2 linked regions of the Homo sapiens genome follow. Each later gene encodes a partner of the first gene's protein in a complex. Each region holds a gene or a part of one and is shown in the gene's direction. Other genes may lie near its edges.

Evidence for each region.
Region 2: IMMT (region 1) and APOOL share a complex: the UniProt entries of both Homo sapiens proteins name them as parts of the mitochondrial contact site and cristae organizing system (MICOS) complex.

What each region holds. Positions count from the first base shown.
Region 1 is NC_000002.12:86,185,281-86,192,568, reverse strand, and holds part of IMMT (MICOS complex subunit MIC60), read left to right. Parts: intron 1-7,288. UniProt on the Homo sapiens protein: Component of the MICOS complex, a large protein complex of the mitochondrial inner membrane that plays crucial roles in the maintenance of crista junctions, inner membrane architecture, and formation of contact sites to the outer membrane.
Region 2 is NC_000023.11:85,069,691-85,076,978, forward strand, and holds part of APOOL (MICOS complex subunit MIC27 precursor), read left to right. Parts: intron 1-4,307; coding exon 4,308-4,421; intron 4,422-4,583; coding exon 4,584-4,701; coding exon of another isoform or gene 4,702-4,710; intron 4,711-7,288. UniProt on the Homo sapiens protein: Component of the MICOS complex, a large protein complex of the mitochondrial inner membrane that plays crucial roles in the maintenance of crista junctions, inner membrane architecture, and formation of contact sites to the outer membrane.

The sequences.
Region 1 (7,288 bases):
CTGCTGTATTTCCAGTATTAACAATAGTCCCTGGCTCCAAGTAGATGCTCAGTGAATGTTTATGACATATATAAATGAAAGAATGAATGTGTTCATGAATTTTTTTTTAATTTAAAAAGATTTTTTAGAGATGGGGTCTCATTATGTTTCCCAGGCTGGTCTTCAGCTTCTGGGCTCAAGTGATATGCCCACCTCGGCCTCCCAAAGTGGAATTTTTCTTAATCTGTGTAAGTGGATGTGACCTCCCTTTAAACATCCCATAGATTTTCAAACCTCTGATTATATATTCAGATTCTCCAGAGAAACAGAAACAATAAGGGTGTGTGTGTGTGTGTAGAGATAGGGTCTCATTCTGTTGCCCAGGCTGGAGTACAGCAGTGTGATCATAACTCATTGCAGTCTCAATCTCCTGGGCTTAAGCGATCCTCCCACCTCACCTCCTGAGTAGCTGGGACTACAGGCTTATGCCACCATGCCCAGCCAATGTTTTGGACTTTTAGTAGAGATGGGATCTCGCAATGTTGTTCCAGCTCATTTTGAACTTCTGGGCTCAAGCAATATCCCCACCTTCTCCTCCCCAAAGTGCTGGGATTACAGGCGTGAGCCATAGTGCCCAGCCTAGGAAGATTTATTATTTATTTATTAATTTTTTTTGAGATGGAGTCTTGCTCTGTCACCCAGGCTGGAGTGCAGTGGCGCCATTTCAGCACACTGCAAGCTCCGCCTCCCGGGTTCATGCCATTCTCCTGCCTCAGCCTCCCAAGTAGCTGGGACTACAGGCGCCTGCCACCACGCCTAATTTTTTTTTTTTTTTTTTTTTTGTATTTTTAGTAGAGACGGGGTTTCACCGTGTTAGCCAGGATAGTCTCGATCTCCTGACCTTGTGATCCCCCCACCTTGGCCTCCCAAAGTGCTGGGATTACAGGCGTGAGCCACCGCGCCTGGCTGAAAGATTTATTGTAAGGACTCTACTCACACAGTTATGGAGACTGGCAAGTCCAGAATCTGCTGTGTGGTTTGGCAGACTGGAGACCTAGGACAGCCAATATTGCAGTTGCAGTCTGCTGGCCAGCAGCCTGGAAACCCAGGAGAGTGGATGGTGCAGTTTCAGTCTGGAGGCAGTCTGCTAGAGAATTGCCTCTTGCTTTTTGTTGTTTTTGAGCCCTCAACTGATTGAATGAAGCCCACCCATGTTATAGGGCAAATTTTTTTTTTTTTTTTTTTGAGATAGGGTCTTGCTCTGTCACCCAGGCTGGAGTGCATTGGTGCAATCTCAGCTCACTACAACCTCCATCCACCAGACTCAAGCCATCCTCCCACCTCAGCCTCCTGAGTAGCTAGGACTGCAGGCATGCACCACCACACCCAGCTAACTTTTGTATTTTTTTTTCTGTAGAGACAGGCTATATTACCCAGGCTGGTCTCAAACTCCTGGGCTCAAGCAATCCACCCGCCTTTGCCTCCCAAAGTGATGGGATTACAGGAGTGAGCCACCATGCCTGGCCACTAGTTCACCAATTAAAATGTTAATCTCATCCAAAAACACAGTCCAAGTTGACACATAAAATGAACCATCACAGATAGTATCTACCTTATTCTTTGCCCAGGCTGGAATGCAGTGGTGCAATCTCGGCTCACTGCAACCTCCGCCTCCTGGGTTCTAGCAATTCTCCTGCCTCAGTCTCTCGAGTAACTGGGACTGCAGGCACGTGCCACTGTGCCCAGCTAATATTTTGTATTTTTAGTAGAGACAGGGTTTCACCATATTAGCCGGGATGGTCTCGATCTCCTGACGTCGTGATCTGCCCGCCTTGGGCTCCCAAAGTGCTGGGATTACAGGCTTAAGTCACTGCACCCGACACAGTATCTGCCTTATTCTTTATGTTTGGGCTTATCATCCTTGCATTCCTTAGATGTGGGTATTCAGTAAATGTGCTTTAGAACTCTGGTCCCTCTGTTTTTGTTTTCTTCTTTTATTCCTCAGACCTAACACCATCTTTCTTCTCTTAGTCCCAATACTGCATCACCAGGCCCAGCCTTTTTGAAGTGGTCATTGAGTTTGGAGGACATGGGCTTTCCGCCTAGCCTAGCCTTCTCTCAAACTACAAACCTGGAAGTGGTCATTTACATATGGAGTAGTCTTTCCTGCTTATAACTTGAAAGAAGAAGAAGAAACATTATTATTCTTGAGGATCAACCGCTCCAGCTTACTTAAGACCAAGTTTGATAACCCAGCTAGTTTAGGATTGAACTTGTGTGTGGACATGAGCTATCATCTTCTAGAATTCCTTCTTTCTGTTAGGATTATGAAACATTATGTTACTCAGTGATAGAGATAGGCAGCCAACCACACGTGCTAGAAAGTAGTTTAGTAGATCATGCGGCCAGGTGTTTGCTTCTACCCATGCTAGAATCCTCTTCATTGTTCCTTTTTTCATATCTCTAGACCAGTAGCCTTCAAACCATTTTGAAATACATCTTACGCCGTAACTTACTACACCGAAGTGATAACATACAAAATATATTCACATATGTGCAGGGAAAACTAAAGTGTCAAGTTCCTGCTTTTGTCATACTGATAAGTATCTGCCATTTCTATAACTAAAGAGCACGTGTTCTCCTAGAATAGAATATGTTTATACTGAAATGTAATGCTGCTTCAATGTAAAATTGTAATGTAAAATGTAAAATTTCAATGTAAAAACTTACTGGATTTTTTTGTGGGATATACTTTTTAACCTTAATGCATGATTCTTATAAACTATTTTAAATTAACAGTAGAAAAAGTTAATTTGTTGTATATCAATCTATATTTCAAATGTAGAACTGCCCATTAACTTATGGGTGCCTTTTTCGTTTGTGTGGGAGGAGTCCTTATGTATGACAAGATCCACAAAAACGTTATCAGTTGACAGCAACCAGCAGTCTGTGGAGGAAACCTGGAACCTCTAGTTAGAGTTCACATGAGGCAGCTCATACTACAGGCTCCATGTCCAGGTTGTCATGCTAGATTGTGGTTTCTTTATGTCTTCACTTTAGTTTGGTAGAGCTAAGGAACAGATGGTCTGTGTAACAGCATTAATCATGGGGCGGAACACTTGAGGTCAGGAGTTCAAGACCAGCCTGGCCAATATGGTGAAACCCCGTCTCTACTAAAAATACAAAAATTAGCCGGGTGTGGTGGCAGGTGCCTGTAATCCCAGCTGCCCGGGAGGCTGAGGCAGGAGAATCTCTTAAACCCAGGAGATGGAGGTTGCAGTGAGCCGAGATCACACCATTGCACTCCAGCCTGGGTGTCACAGCGAGACTCCATCTCAAAAAAAAAAAGAACATTACATGGGAATTATATGTTTCCTCTTTTTTTTAATATCACGTTTCTGCGGGTTAGAAGCAGCAAGGCTAACCTTATAACATATGTCTAGACAGATTGCTTTGAAACAGTGTTGTCCTTTCTATGTCATAGGTCCTTATTAATAAAAAGGAATTCCAGGACAAAAAAGTAGCCAATATTTTGTGTGTTAATGTAGGATATTTAGTTTATGTTAATAGTTTAGTACTTAAGAGAGCTCTGGAGACAGACCTTATGTTTGGCAATGGTTTCTTAACTATAACACCAAAAGCACAAGCAACAAGAGAAACTAAAGATAAATTGGACTTCATTAAAATTTTAAATTTTTGTGCATCAGAGGGATACTTGAGAGTGAAAAGGATGAAAGTATTCTAATGGATACTAGATATTTTGGATACTAGACCCTCATATCTGATGAGGTGTTTCTTTTTAGGTAAGGAACTCCTGCAACTCAGTAACAAAAAAGACTACCCAAATAAAAATACAGGCAAAGGGCCCAGGCTCTGTGGCTCATGCCTGTCATCCCAGCACTTTGGGAAGCTGAGGCAGGCAGAACGCTTGAGCGCAGGAGTTCAAGACTAGCCTGGACAACATGGTGAAACTCTGTCTCTACAAAAAATACAAACATTAGCTGGGTGTGGTGGCATGCACCTGTAGTGTTAGCTACTCGGTAGGCTGAGAGGTGGGAGGATTGCTTGAGCCTGTGAGGTCGAGGCTGCAGTGAACCATGATGGTGCCACAGCACTCCAGTCTCGGTGACAGAGTGAGATGCTGTCTCCACATATATACATATATGTATTTGTGTGCGTGTGTGTGTGCGCGTGTGTGCGTGTATGTGTATGCATGAGCAAAGGACTTGAATAGCCATTCATCCAAAGCAGATATACAGATGGCTAAGAAGCACATGGAAAGATGCTCAACATCCTTTGACACTAGGGAAATGCAAATTAAAACCGTGAGATACTCAGTTCACAACCACTAAGATGGTTATAATAAAAATGGAAAATAACAAATTAGCCGGGCATGGTGGTACACACCTGTAATCCCAGCTACTTGGGAGGCTGAGGCAGGAGAATCACTTGAACCCGGGAGGCGAAGGTTGCAGGGAGCTGAGATTGCGCCATTGCACTCCAGCCTGGGCGACAAGAGCAAAACTCCATCTCAAAACAAAAATGGAAAATAACAAATGTTGGTGAGGGTATAGAGAAATTGGAACCCTCATACATTGCTAGTGGGAATGTAAAATGGTACAGCTGCTGTGAAAAAATAGTTTAGTGGTGTCTCAGTAACTTTTTTTTTTTTTTCTGGAGACAGAGTTTCACTCTTGTTGCCCAGGCTGGAGTGCAGTGGCGCGATCTCGGCTCACCGCAACCTCTACCTCCTGGGTTCAAGGGATTCTCCTGCTTCAGCCTCCCGAGTAGCTGGGATTACAGGCATGCGCCACCACGCCCAGCTAATTTTGTATTTTTACTGGAGACGCGGGGCTTCTCCATGTTGGTCAGGCTGGTCTCGAATTCCCAACCTCAGGTGATCTGCCTGCCTCAGCCTCCCAAAGTGCTGGGATTACAGGCGTGAGCGACTGAGCCTGGCTGTGTCTCAGTAATTTAAACATAGAATTACCATATGACCTTGAAGTTCCCTGCCAAAAGAATAAAAAACAGGTGTTCAAACAAAAACTTTTAGATGAATATTCATAGCAACATTATTCACAATTCACAGCCAAAAGGTGAGGCAACCCAAATGTCCATTAACTGATGACTGGTTAAACAAAATATGGTATATTTACGTGATAAAATATTAGATTCAGCCATAAAAAGGAATGAAGTACAAGCTACATATGTGATACATGTTACAATGTGAATGAATCGTGAAAACATTACACTAAGTGAAAGAAGCTGGACAAAAAGATGTACATTGTGTGATTCCATTTATACAAAATATCTCAAACAGGCAGATTCATAGAAACAGAAAGTACATGGTGGTTGCCAGGGGCCAGAGAGAGAGGAAAATGGGGGATGACTGCTTAATGGATATAGGATTTCCTTTTAGGGTGATGAAAATGTTCTAAGATTAGATAGTGGTGATGGTTGTTGTACAACATCGTGGATGTACTAAATACCGTGGAATTGTACATTTTAAAATGGTTAGAATGGTGAATTTTATGTTAAGGGGATTTTGTCACATAGAGGAAAAAAAAAATACCTGCCACCAGGTATTTGCAGATGGCCGGAAGTATAGAGCCAGAGCTAGATACACACATACACACCCTAAACTTGCAGAGGCTTCCATTGGCCCAAGATAGGAAAATTTGAGCAAAAAGACAGTAATTACAAATGGTTGAAATCCATCAAAAGTGTTTAAATCCATGAATTTAAAAAGATCTGTTCTTATGAGTTACAGCTGCATAACAGGCCACCTTGAGCTTGGGGTAAAATAACAGTATTTATTGCCTTACTCAGTTCTGGAAAATTTTTGCTCAGAGACCCTCATGAAGTTGCAGTCAGATAGTTACTAGGTCTACAGTCATCCCCAAGTCTTCTTTACTCTCATGTGTGGCAGTAAATACTGGCTGCAGCTGACACCTCAGCAGGGACTGTTGGCTGGATCACCCATCTGTGGCATCTTTAAGTGTCTGGACTTCCATACACTTTGGTGGCTGGGTTCCAAGGGCAAGTGTGACAAGAGGCAGAGCTAGGTAGAAGCTGTATCCTTTTTATGTCTTAGTCTCAGGAGTTACAGAGCATCACTTTCACTGCCTTCTATTAGTGAATTAGTAACAAAGGCCTGCCCTTGTTTAAGGGAAGTGTACATAAAACTTATTATTGTTGGGAGAGGGGCACGTTTCTGGAACAGCATGTGGTATAGGAAGTATTGTTGCAGTCAATTTTGGATATTATCCTCAGCCTTCTGGACCCAACTGACATCCCTCCCACATGCACATCCCTCCCACTCACAACCTTCTCCAAGACTCTCCAGAGTCTAATGCCATCAAAGCATCAGCATTAGGAACAAGATCTTGTCATCTGAATCAGATCCTACTATGGATAAGACATCTTGAATGTGGTCCCTAGGGTATAGCTTCTTAAACACTTTTTTTGGTGATCTAAAGCCCTGTAAACTAAAGAGACAAATTATCTGCTCCCCATACATTCAGCATATGGTGGTATGACAGACACAGGATAATCACTCTAGACACTCCTATTCAAAAAGGCAGAAACTAAGAGGCACACAGCAGTCACCATTCCATAACAAGTGTAAAATTCAGCTGGCCCTATGTTTCTAATTCCTTGATGAGAGCTCAGTCCTACTGCTTGGGAATGATTCTCCTCAGCTCTTGGTTCTACCCTTTGGGCTCCTGGTTTTACACTTGAATTATTCTTCCGTTTCCAGAATATGTTGTCTGTTACAGCTGAATTGTTTCACAGCCTACTTCCTGTCTGTAGAAGTTTGTCTAGAAGCTTCTTTTCATTTTGTCCTCTTTTTCACTTTAAATATAAGCCAGCATGTTTTTTATTGACACAATTCTCAACAAGTTTGTGGGTTTCCTGTGAATCTTAATGGGATTTTCTTCATTAGATGCATGATACACATCTTATCAAGATAAGCCCTTCTCCATTTTGGGCTTCCTGTGAGGCTGCTGTAGGTAACACCTTTAATGTTCTGAGTAACCTTATTGATTCAATAGAATCTGGGAAACACATCCTTATGATTCTTAGAGGGCCTTTTCCTCAAGGTAAAAAGACTCTCTGAGGGGCACCTCCTTAGATCTTTTTGAGATCTCAAAGTATCTTTTGGTCACACACTAGATTTGATCTTTGGCTTGAAGCCCTTCTCTATTTGAGAATCTATTTGAAAACAATAAGCAGTTTTATTTTTGAACCCACCAAATCCTGACTCTTTTATATTTCCTTTAAATTTTGCTTGAAAGCAAAACAGGTT
Region 2 (7,288 bases), on another chromosome or scaffold:
TGGTTAAAGATCTATAACATCTTTCCAACAGTAAGCCATATCTGTAGTATGTCTTCTACAATTTCCAGATTAGGTTCTTTTAAAATAGAATGAACAGTTAAAAACATTAAAAAAAATTGAGTGCAGAATCCTTTTAGATGTTTATTTCTCCCAGCTGTTATAATTGTCTTGCTCACCTCTAATTTCATAGCAGTTATTTTTTTAGCCATTCACATTTGAGTCTTTACGAAGCATTTAACTTAATTTTCCTAGAAACAATAATTCTTTTTAAACTCATATTTTATCATATTAAGTTACATTTAGACTGTTTAATTATAAGTAAAACTGATGCAGCAACTTGGGGAAAAAAGGAACTTAATAAGCATACTAATCAACTTGTGAAAGATAGTACCTTAGCATATTGGAGAGCACCTGATAGGGATGAATATTCAACATTCTACAAACATCATTTATAATAAATTAAAAAAACATTTTATTAATCAGTCAAGTCTCCTAAAAGAATGTCAGGTGAGAGCTTTTTAGTGTATCTGTGTTTTTCTGAAGGAAAGGGCCTATAGCTTTTAAGAGCTTCTCCAAGGTATCTGTGATATTAAAAAGTTTAAGAAATGATAAGTCTAGAAGGTCCTTTGAAAAACAAAAGACTCACTCCAGTTACTCATCATTTTGAAAATAGACTTCAAGATGGAATTACTCTTCGCTTTTTATAATTTTCCTCACAATATTTTTATTATTAACTTATGTAAAGAGTAGCAAGTAGTCTGTCTTTGAAAGCTATGAAATATCTAGGAATAGACTTACCAAATAATGTTTTAACGCCTGTTTAAAAGAAAAATAAACTATCAAACTTTACTGAAGGGTATTTTTAAATTTTCACAATATTTAATTGATGAATAAAGATTGAATATATTCAAGGTGTACAACATGATGATTTGACATACATATACATTGTGTAATGATTATTACAATCAAATTAACATATCCATCACCACCCATGCAGCACATTATATACCCAGAACTTGTTCATCTTATGACTGAAAGTTTGTACCCTTTGACCAACATCTCATTTACCTCACTGCTATCCCCTGGCAACCTCCATTCTACTCTCTGCTTCTATTCTGCGTATATGTCCAAAAAAAAAAAAAATGAAATCAGTATCTTGAAGAGATATATGCACCTCCATGTTCATTGCAGCATTATTCACAATAGTCAAGATTAGAAACAACCTAAGTGTCTCTCAGTAGATAAAGGGATAAAGATAATTTGGTACATATATACTACAACAGACTGCTATTTAACCATTAAAAACGGAAATTCTGCCATTTGCAATGGCATGGATAACCCAGAGGACATTATACTCAGTGAAATAAGATAGACACAGAAAGACAAATACTGTTTGATCTCACTTATATGTGAAGGATATTTAACAAAAAATCTTGAATGTCTTTGGGCATATATCCTGTTTCTCGATGAAAGACTAAATGTTGAAATACGGCGAGTATTTCAAAGTCTAGAAATTTAATTCAGTTCTTACAAAAGCTCTGGATTTGAATGGAGTGTGACATTCATTCATCTAGTATTTGTTGTCTGTCTACTGTGTATTGGTTACTATAGTATACACAATAAAATAGATCAAGAGGACAAAAGAGAATATCCAAACAATTATATTGAGTATATTTTTGTACACATGAGGGTAGGGGATTGATACGTGGTACAGGTGGCATTTCAGATCAGTGTGTAATGGAAAGGATGGATTTTTTTTTTCCAAGAAATATGTTGGGATAATTGGCTGTTTGTAGAATTACTCAGACCTTTACCAACTATCATGGGAAAACTAATTCTAGGTGGAATACAGATCTAATCATAAACTAGAATACTATAAAAGGTATGAGAAGAAATAAGAGGAATACCTGTTTAATCTTGAGATAGGAACAGCTTTCTTAAGCAAAATACAATCTAGAAGCCATTAAAGAAAAAGTTGACATATTTGACTACATCAAAATTAATACATTTCTGTAGATTACAATATACCATACACAAAGTTAATGGATACATGAAAAACTTGGAAAACTATTTGTAACATATATGACAAAGTACTAATATCCTTCATGTATTAAGAACTCCTGGCCAGGCGTGGTGGCTCATGCCTGTAATCCCAGCACTTTGGGAAGCCGAGGCAGACGGATCACGAGGTCAGGAGATCGAGACCATCCTGGCTAACACGGTGAAACCCCGTCTCTACTAAAAATACAAAAAATTAGCCGGGCATGGTGGCGTGGGTATGGTGGCGTGCGCCTGTAGTCCCAGCTACTCGGGAAGCTGAGACAGGAGAATGGGCATGAATCTGGGAGGCGGAGCTTGCAGTGAGCTGAGATCACGCCACTGTACTCCAGCCTGGGTGACAGAGAGAGACTCCGTCTCAAAAAAAACAAACAAAAAAAAGAACTCCTATAAATCAATGAGCAAAAGATGAATGTGCCCTCTGGGAAAATGAAAAAAGCAGTCTACAAAATAAGAAACATAAATGGCCTAATATATGTAAGATACTTGATTTCATCAACAAATAAATGCAAATTTGAAAAATCATTTAGATATTGGTTTTTAGCCTTTAAATTTGACAAAGATTTAAAAGACTTATAATATCACTGCTGGTAAATAGGGTAGGAAAACAGACATATACTCTTGGTGGTAGTGTAAATTGCTGCAGTATATTGCTGACTTTCTGGAGAGCAACATGGTAATACTGTCAAAAATTAATATGTGTATACGCTTCAGTGCAGAAATTTCAGCTCTAGGAATTTATCCTGAGGAAATACTATAAGGGTTATGGTCCCAGTTGTATGTATAAGGATGCTAATTTCATCATTGCTTATACTTGCCATCTCCCTACCCCCAAAAAGGAAAACAGCCCATATGCTCACCAACGGGATTTGTTAAATCATCGTGCCTCAATAGGGAATTTGTTAAACAAATTGTGGTGCATACATTATAGAATGCTAAACTAAGCAGCAAATTTAAAAAGTAGATCTACGGTATATAAAGTAATATAGAACCGTGCCTTTGAAATACTGTCAAGCTTTTAAAAAAATCATATCTCAGAATAATATGTGTACTGTGATCTCAAGTATTTGAAAAGGAAAACAAACTAAATACATATGTAATTTATTTTAAAATTTAATTGAAAACATAATTGAGATTGTATTGTATAATCTATTCTGTAACTTTTTCAAATTAGTGGTTCATCATGGACTTCCATTCATGCCAGTACATATAGATCTACTTCATCTTTTTTGAAAGATCTGTAAATATTAATATTACATTTGTTTTAAAATTTGTGTATATATAATGTATAGATGAGTAAAAATTGAGGAAGGATATATGTATAACTGTTAACAAAGGTTATATTTGGGGAGGAAGAGGAATTTCTTTATATTAGTATATTACTTAACTTTTCAACTGTAGGTATATACTTAGTAAAAACAATAAAAATATTTCTATTTGAGGATGGAAACATAATTTTTAAAAAATTTATGTTTGTAGAAATTATAATCCTGAAAAATACCTCAAAACATCTTCAAAACTTGAAAAATCAATGGCTGTTGAAATTACTTTAACTAAAATGAACAAAAGCATTGGAGAAGAATAGGAAAAAGAAGAAATCAGAAGTAGATTTTCAAAGAGAAATAGAGATGAATGAAAATAACGGTAACTTTAGGAATTCAGCCAGCATCCTGGCCTCTGCTTGAGTATATTTATCAGTCATTGTTTATTTTACCTTTCTACCAAAAAAGAATATTATTCTTTGGAGGAATTAGTTGATGCCTTTTATTTCTTTATGAATGGAGAAAGCACCATCAAATTTTAAGCAAAAGCATTAACTTTGTAGCATGTTAAAAATCTCATTTTCTCAGTCAGCAGTTTATTATCTCAAACTATATTCCCCAAACTCCTGTTAATAGACACAGTTTTCACTTATATCAAATCACCGTGTTATATACCTTAAATAGATACAATTTTATATATGTCAATCTAATCTCACTAAAGCTGAAAAAAATTAAAAAAATAGACATAGTTTTAAATTTATGTTACAATGTGAATGCAGATTATACATTTCTTATAACCTTTGCATGACACAAAAAATTTTTCATATAAGATTTTAGAAATGGTGCTTTGTGTTATATGATTTAGAGATTTATATCTTTATTGATTCTGACTTGAGTGTTCATATAAAATACCTGACAAATCTAAAATACATTTTTAATTTTAACTTTTAAAAATATGTTATTTGACTTACTTTTTGTTTTAATTAGGTAACAGCAAAAAAGGTATATGCTACAAGCCAGCAAATTTTTGGAGCAGTTAAATCATTGTGGACAAAAAGCAGCAAAGAAGAGTCACTCCCTAAACCTAAAGAAAAAACTAAGGTAGAGTTTACATGGAGCAAGACGGTCAACATTGAGTTTTGTTTGGGTGGGTGTTGGCTTGTAATGAGGGTACTGGACAGAGGTCGAGGATAAAATGAGAAAGTAGATGAAGGAAATAGTAAAATGATTTACTTATGAAGGAAAAATCTGTTTGGTAAACAGCTAGGATCCTCTTCCGAAATAGAAGTACCTGCAAAAACAACTCACGTCTTGAAACACTCAGTGCCCTTGCCAACAGAACTCAGCTCTGAAGCAAAGACCAAATCAGAATCCACTTCAGGTTTGTTGGGTATAAGTCAATTTTGTTTTCATTCTTTTCTTAAATAATTTGATAGCATTATCATTAGTGGTTTGAACTTAAGATGTGTTCTCCCCATAAATATTTTGTCTTTCTCATATCTGTGGTTTCTGTTTCTTTTTAGGTTATGAGGTACTTAAGTATCTGCAATTGCTTTAAATTATCACATAGTTCATAATATAGATCTTTTAATGTGAGTATATAGAGTAACACTGACAGGTTGATTAGGTGAAGCATTTAATATAACTTTATAAATTTGAGCTATTAGGTGGGGGAAAATGGGCCTTTCTAGATTCTGTAATTTTAAAGGGATGAGTCACACCTACATAAAGAAATGTCAGCTTCCATTTTTTGTGCTATTTACCTATCAGTCTCCCTGTCAATCTTAAGACTTTTATTTTTATTAAGTTTAGTTTTACTAAGTTTAGGCACCAAAAGAACTTTCAGCATCAAATATTAGAAATATTATCCATTATAATACTTATAACATTGCTAGTATTCCATACTGGCAATAAACACTTTGTGGGACCAAGCAGTGACAATTATACTTTCTAAACAAATACTGCTGTGATTTTACTGTGATCAAAAAGAAGGTGACAAAGTGTTTAATACCATTTTGACAATGTATTCATATTGATTTGCATAGGTTTATCTATATAGATACCTATATAGATATCTATATAATTACAATGTGAATTATAAAACCCGCTAAGTTGTCTTATTGCAAAGGAAGGTGGCTAATTCAGCGGTTGGGGAATAATAATAATATGCACCCTTTATCGAGCACATACTGTGATGCAGAGAGCTAGAAGTATATTATGTTATTCAGCCCTTACCCACAAAGCAAAACAAAAACCTCTGCTGGATCGGTAATTATTCCCATTTTATGATGAAGAGACTGAGACTCAGGGAGCTAAAATAAGTTGCCCCAAATCATATAGCTTGTGAGTAGCAGAGTTCTGTTTATGGCCTAGATCTTCTTGACATCAAAGTCTAAGTTCTTTCCATTGTCTATAGATTATCTAATTTAAAACTGGAAGTTAGTCTCTAATTTCAGCCTCCTCCTCTCACTTAATCTTCATAAAAACTGTCATTGAATAACAAACATGATATGAGTTTTACTATTTTCCTCTGTCCTCTCTCTTTTCTAATCAAGAGGAGCTATACAGTTTTTAGACTCTGAATAATCTACCAGTGACCATATTCTCACAAGAATATAATGTATGGTCATTTTTCCACATGCCTTTTAATTCCAGAGTATCTTTATGAAGATGAAACATACTACAGCTTAACAGTGGGACCAAAACCTTTCCAAGCTAATGTCTTTTCCTCACACATCTAGATTCTGGAACCCTTTATTTGCCTGTCTTGGGTGATGTGGTATATGAAAAGCATTCTATGGAGACAATGCAGAGGGAGAAAGAGATGCCAGTGCTACTTACTCATTCTTATCATAGATGTCTTGGTCAGTTTGAGCTGCTGTAAAAAATACCATAGACTGGGTGGCTTATAAACAACAGAAATTTATTTCTCACAGTTCTAGAGACTGAAATTCTGAGATCAGGGTGCCAACATGGTCAGGTTCTGGTGAAGACCCTCTTCTGGCTTGTAGACAGCCTACTTCTCATTGTATTCTCACATGGCAGAGAAGAGAGGGAAGCAGGCTCTCTCAAGATTCATAAGGGCACTACTGATCCCATTCACAAAGGCTGTACCCTCATCACTTCCTCTAATTCTAACCACTTCCTAAAGCTCTCCATCTCCTAATACCATCACAATGGGGGAGATAGGGTCTCAACATGTGAATTTTGGGGGGACACCAACACGCAGTACATAACAATATATCATTTGGCGTTTATTATACAGTATAACCTTGGGATTCACCATTTCCACGTTTCATATGTAGAATAAAACATTTTTTTTTTTTTGGCCATGAGAAACAGTAGTGATTGTGAGCACAGGTTATAGAATAAGACTTGAATCGAAATCCCAGATCCAGCATTTACTAGTTCTGTTACCTGGGGCAAGTTATCAAACACCTCAAGCCTCAGTCTCCTCATTCAACAAAAAGGGGACAATAATAGTTCTCACATGGTTGTGAGGATTAAGTGAGATATTGCATGTAAAGCACTAACTGTAATGCCAGGGACATACTAAGGGGTATCAGTGGATATTAAAATATATCATTATTATTATTTGCCTAGAGCAGTTAGCCATTTTGATGAGAAACAGATTTTCATTGAGCATACTTAAAGAGCAAGTCACTTACCTAGTGAGCCTAGCCATGGCTATAACTTATCACCATACAGAACAGGTAGGGTGTACTGTCCAACTATATGTTGTGGCTCTGAATATGAGTTTGGTTGTTCTCTACCATCTCATGTACATTAATGGAGAAAATTGCTATTTTGGGAATCACAAATTTAGAATTTGGTGTCATAGACCTCTTCAAGAATCTGATGAAAGCAGAATGAAATCTCTCACAGTCTTGCAAGATTAATGTCCCTCTAAAGCAGAAGTTGACAAACTATGGCCTGTATGCCAACTCTGACTATGTTTTTTTTTAGGT